2 separate regions of the Homo sapiens genome follow, and region 2 is linked to region 1. Evidence: fine-mapped expression QTL. Tissue or cell type: whole blood. Region 1 holds a variant in brackets; the other region holds the start of a gene. All regions are shown on one strand. Distances are between the middles of the regions.

Region 1 (2,757 bases):
TATCATCCCTTCATGCTTAGCCAGTCATTTCTCTCTAGCAGCTCTACACGTTTCTCTGCCTTTGATGTCCTCCAGTGTCATGATGACCTATCTATGTGTGGATACATCACACCCAAGACTCACAAAACTTAGGGGATAAAACATTAGATATCACCAAAACACTGCACCCTGAGCCCTTCCACTCAGTAGAAATAACGCCCTTATTTTGAAGTTGTTTACCACTCTCATAAATGTTTTTATTCCTTTAGTAGATATATATCAATGTTTCCCATGCTTAAAATTGTATCTAGATAGTATCATTCTACGTAGATCCTTCTGTAATTTCCTTTTTTCTCCATTTGATTTGATCCATTTTCACTGCTCTCTGTAACACTTCATTGAGTAAATCTATTGCAATTCATTTATTCATTCTATTGATGAACATTTAGGTTGTTTCTGGCTTTTCTTACTCTAACAGTGCAACAACAAATATTTTGTTTTGTTTTGTTTTGAGACAGAGTCTTGCTCCGTCACCCAGGCTGGAGTGCAGTGGTGGGATCTTGGCTCACTGCAACTTCCACCTCACAGGCTCAAGTGATTCTCTTGCCTCAGCCTCCTGAGTAGCTGGGACTACAGGCATGCGCCACCATGCCTAGCTAATGTTTTTTGTATTTTTAGTAGAGATGAGGTTTCACCATATTGGCCAGGCTGGTCTCAAACTCCTGACCTTAAGTGATCTGCCTGCCTCAGCCTCCCAAATACAACAAATATTTTGTATACACTTTCTTGGGCATCTACTAGGGTATACACCTAGGACCATATCTTCTAGCTTACCAGAAATGCCCACCATAAGCTTTACCCATGTACATGGCTTCTGAGGAAGTGAACACATCCTTTCACTCTACCTCACTCACAGTTATAGCACCATTTTTATTTTTGCTAATTTGATGGTTTAATTTGCAAGCCCTTAAATTACTAGTAAGGTTGAACACCTATTTATATTTATTGGCTATTTTGGGTTTCCTCTTCTCTGAACTGCCAGGTCATATACTTTGCCCATTTATTTACTGGACTGATTTGCATATTTATTCAAGAAACCCATCTTTATATTTTGTGCATTGTAAATATCTTTCCTGCAAAAAGCTTTTCTTAGACAATGATGAAAGAATTCTGATATGTAGCATGTCTTAATATATACAGTTATATTCTATATTTTTTTTTTGAGACACAGTTTCACTCTTGTTGCCCAGGCTGGAGTGCAATGGCACAATCTCGGCTCACCGCAACCTCTGCCTCCTGGATTCAAGAGATTCTCCTGCCTCAGCCTCCC[G/A]AGTAGCTGGGACTACAGGCATGCACCATGCCTGGCTAATTTTTTATTTGCAGTAGAGATGCAGTTTCTCCATGTTGGTCAGGCTGGTCTTGAACTCCCAACCTCAGGTGATCTGCCCACCTTGGCCTCCCAAAGTGCTGGGATTATAGGCATGAGCCACCGCGCCTGGCCGTCATATTCTATATTTTCTACTAACAATGTTAAAGGTTTTTCTTTCATATATAGGTTCTTATTAACTCCCACCCCCACCTCCCACCTCCTAGAATTGATTTTGTGTGAGGCAGAGATCTAATTTTATCTTTCCTCATATATGGATAACTAATTGCCCTGGCACAATTTATAGGTGTATGTAAATCTCATTTATAATGCCTTCAAACTGCCATATATGCATGTTTAAAGATCTCAATTTTATTTCATTGGTTAGTCTACACTTAGGCCAATTAACACATTGTCTTAATGGTCACAGCTTTGTAATATATCTTGATATCTGATGGATAATTTCCCTTGCTTGTTATTCTACTTCAAAATTGTTTGACCACATATGCCTTTCTTCAATTCTGGAAAATTCTCAGCCATTATCTTTTCAACTATTCTACTCAAACATTCTCTAAAGTCCTTCCTTCTGGATTTCCTAATGGGCATTCTCATTCTTTCCTCTATGACTCCTAATTACACTTTTATACTATCCATCTTTTTATCTCTCTTGCTGTGCTTGGGGGATTTATCCAGCTCTATCTTCTAATTCACTAATTCTGTCTTTAACTGTGTCTAATCTGATGACTTTTTAAAAAAACTTCAATGAACATATCATGCACTTTTAGTTCTTTTTAAAAAAACCTTCCAATTTTTTTTCAAACTGTCTTCCTTTCTTACTATGGCTCTATTTCTTCTTTAATCATTTTATAAAATAACTACAGGATACTTCAGAGACATGGCAGGCTTGGTTGCAGAACACTGCAATAAAGTGAGTCACACAAATTTTTTGGTTTCTCAGTGCATATACAAGTTTTGTTTACAATATGCTTGTAGTCTATTAAGTGTGCAACAACATTCTGCCTAAAAATATGTACACACCTTAATTTAAAAATACTTTGTTGTTTTAAAATGCTGACACAGAAGCATGAGATGAGGATATGCTTTTGGGACAATGGCACCAAACAGACTTGTTCAATGCAAGGTTGCCACAAATCTTCAATGTGTAAAAACCACAGTACCTTCAAAGCACAATAAAGTGAAGTGCAATAAAATGAGTTGTGCCCGTACTTTATATCCACCTTCAGGTTCTTCAATTATTTCAGATTGTTAGAGACTTTGATTCTACTGTTTATTTCTTGACCCCTCTTCTCACCATGGTGGTAGATTTGTTTATGTGCTTATTTTTCTAGTGTGATCTTATCCTCCGTGGGGGTTGTTTTATCTCCAAATCTCCTACACACTGGGTGGTGGAG
Region 2 (2,757 bases), 39 kb after region 1:
ACTTAGGTCCCCGCATATCCCCTGATCTGGGTACCACCAGCCCTACGCCTATATTTAGTGACCCTGGGCTCCACCCCACTGGACTGCTCACGTCCATGCTGTTCTGTGCAGGAGAATCAAACTTCCATCTTGTTAGGGCCAGCGTGCTTTGAAGGCTCTTGGTTACAAAAGCACCCTAACCTGCTATATTACTGTACTATACTATTACTATACTACATTACTATACCATATTATTACTATATTACTGGGGTAACCTGCACCCTAGTAATATAACAATTGGTACCTGGAGGAGGGGTGCGGCTGTGATAGAAACCTAAGTGGTACTGGCTTCACGGCCAGGCAGTGAGTAGTGAGGAAAGAGATGGTGCAGGGTAGAAAGCTAGTCATTCCCGCTACGCAGTAAAGACATCTAAAAAAATGCTGCCTGTATTAACTGGGAAGACGGATCCTGCACTTACCAAGCCTGTGTAGCTCTAGAAGAAAAAAAAAAGCAAATATGCGGTATGTTGGCTGCTCACTGCTGCCCCTAGCGAGGAACTTTGAAATAAACGAGGTTAAGTAAGAACTGGCCAATTTGCAAGCAGAGGTGGAAGATAAAATACAGGAATGCCAAGCAGCTCTGTCTTCCAGCTCCAATCCTGCAGTACTTCTTTCAGTGCCCCTAAGACGCTAAGCTCCTTCCTCCAACACTGTTTTTTGTCACCTCCCATCCTGCCTACCCCCGGTCATCCTTCAAGTCTCACACATACCTGACTTACCCACGCACCCTGGGATCTTGTGCAAGTCTCCCCATTACCATCTCATCTTACCCTCTGCTCATCAGTTAATGGACTCAGCCCAAGAAGCACTAACACGCTCAATGCCGGGTAATTTTCTGCGCGTGTTCGCTCCCCACGTACTCGTCCCCCAACACCCAGCCCTGGGCCTGGCACGTGGCAGGCGCTCAGTGAACGAGACTCAGGAACAGTCAGGTGTAGACGGCAGGAGAAGACATGACACGGATACCAAGCACCCGAGGTCCTGCAATGAGTCTCGGCCCATGTTTTAGGGAGCCTGGGTCTGGAGCCCCAGTGAGCGTGTGGGTCAGGAAGGTGCCCGAGCTCCGCGCCCGACCGCGCAGGCGCGAAACCGGGAGAGCGGCGTCACAACCCCGCCCTAACAGGCCACGCCCATCACTGGCCACGCCCTCCCAGGGACGTACGCGAGCGTGCGAGTGTCTTGGGCCAGGCCTCCTCACAGGCAGGGCCGCGCCGGCAAAAACGAGGCGCGGTGGGAACCCGCCCAGGGGCCATCCGCCCTCCCGTCCCTAACGCCCAGGCCCCGGGGGCTCACCACGTCCCCCGGAACCTGCAGATCCTCCGCCCTCCGCTGTCGCCAGCGGCCGAGCGCTAAGCTGTCCATGCAGCCCCAGGGTCAAACCCTCCCGGCATCTCAGGCCTGGCCGAGGCCCGCGCACCACGCCCCCTTCCGCACAAGGCCCTGGGGAGCCAATAAGGAGAGGGAGGGGCGGGACGCCGCGGGAAGCGCGAGAGCACCAAGGCGAGGACCGCAGGCAGGAGTAGCAGAGACCAGAGTCTTCTGAGACTATTGGGATGCTGTGGGCGTTGTCCGTCTGCCCCAAGTCATTACTTCGCAGAGAGGTCCCTGCATATCTCTGCTTGTCGCTTCTCCCTTCACAGGAGCAGCCGTGGGGCTCTAAAGAAAGCATTCTTTCAGGATCCCGCCAAACTTTTGACAACACCCCGTGGATCGGCTGGAGGAGCGCCCGCCTCCTCTGTCTTATGATTGGTTGTTAGGCCTCGTGGGGAGCCGTCTCCCTGTGGCTGGTTGGCTAATAGATGGCGCAGCGGGTCAATTAGCTTGAGCGAGACAGCGGGTGTTTCTGGGAGTTGTGGTCCGCAGGGCTGCCTCGCTTCCGGGTGGGAGCTGCTGTTGCCGCGGTGGGAAGACGCAGAGCTTTCAGGCCAGCCCCGCGCGGCTCACGGCTTTTGTGGCTGGTGGCTGGTGGCTGCTGGTTGGGAGGCCCCGGAAGGACTTCTACTCCTCCGTAGGCTGGAGGGCACTAGGAGGTCGCAGGTGCTGAGCTGCCGGGGCCTTTGGGCTGTGCTGAAGGGGAAAAGCGCAGCCACTGTCGGGAGTGTGTGCTGTGGAGGCAGTTGCCGCGGTGATGTTCGCTCCGCCTGGCCCCTGCCGGGGATTCAGCCAACCAACCCTCAACAGCCGGCGGCGGCTCAGTCTCTGGCCCGGCGCGGTGCTGAGCACCACTGAGCCCTCATCTTAGGGCACCGAGGCCCGGACTCCTGCAGCCGCATGTCCAGGCCCCTCCTGCCTTAGCACGGAGCTCCCTTGACTGCTCCAAACAGCCCAGACTGGCGCCTTTTTTGGATAAATTAAAACGGGGCCAATCCGTTGCCAGCGATTGGCTAACGATGGGTACACGACCTAGTACGGGCCAGGGAGAAGTAAGCGAGGTCTGTTGAGGCAGAGTTTCGGGAAAGATCTTCTAGTTAAAAGGGGAGTTGGGTGGGTGGGGGCTGTTTTCTTCCTGTTGTCCTTGCCCAGTGTAAGTTTCCTGGAGCTGCAGCAGCCTTTTTGTCACCATGAGGGCAGCTGGTGGGAACCCTAGGAAAGCAGGAAATCACCTAGAGCCGGAACAGCCTGAGCCTCTGAACCAACCCACAGCTGACTACCCGTCACTTTGTCGTGTCTCTGTGATTTGAGTCCATCATTCTGCTGCAGTTGAAGGTATCCTTTGAC

The links. PIP is the estimated chance that this variant, and not a neighbour inherited with it, causes the effect.
Region 2: C10orf143 starts here. The variant in region 1 is fine-mapped to the expression of C10orf143 in whole blood (TOPMed, PIP above 0.99). The same link has a PIP of 0.9 or more in tibial nerve.

Annotation. Positions count from the first base shown.
Region 1 is chr10:130,070,444-130,073,200 of GRCh38, forward strand. All of the region lies in intron 3 of C10orf143 (chromosome 10 open reading frame 143), which reads right to left. Among named protein-coding and RNA genes, the nearest start is that of C10orf143, 39 kb to the right of the region's middle. The variant G/A (reference allele first, on the strand shown) is at 1,310.
Region 2 is chr10:130,109,372-130,112,128 of GRCh38, forward strand. It overlaps C10orf143 (chromosome 10 open reading frame 143), which reads right to left and starts at 1,459. Exons shown (of 4, transcript NM_001355042.2): 1 at 1,333-1,459. The coding sequence starts at 1,401. LOC102724883 (a long non-coding RNA gene) reads left to right here and starts at 1,922. Exons shown (of 3, transcript NR_188169.1): 1 at 1,922-2,745. RefSeq lists enhancers at 514-623, 784-963, 1,824-2,153, 2,634-2,757 and a silencer at 1,154-1,533.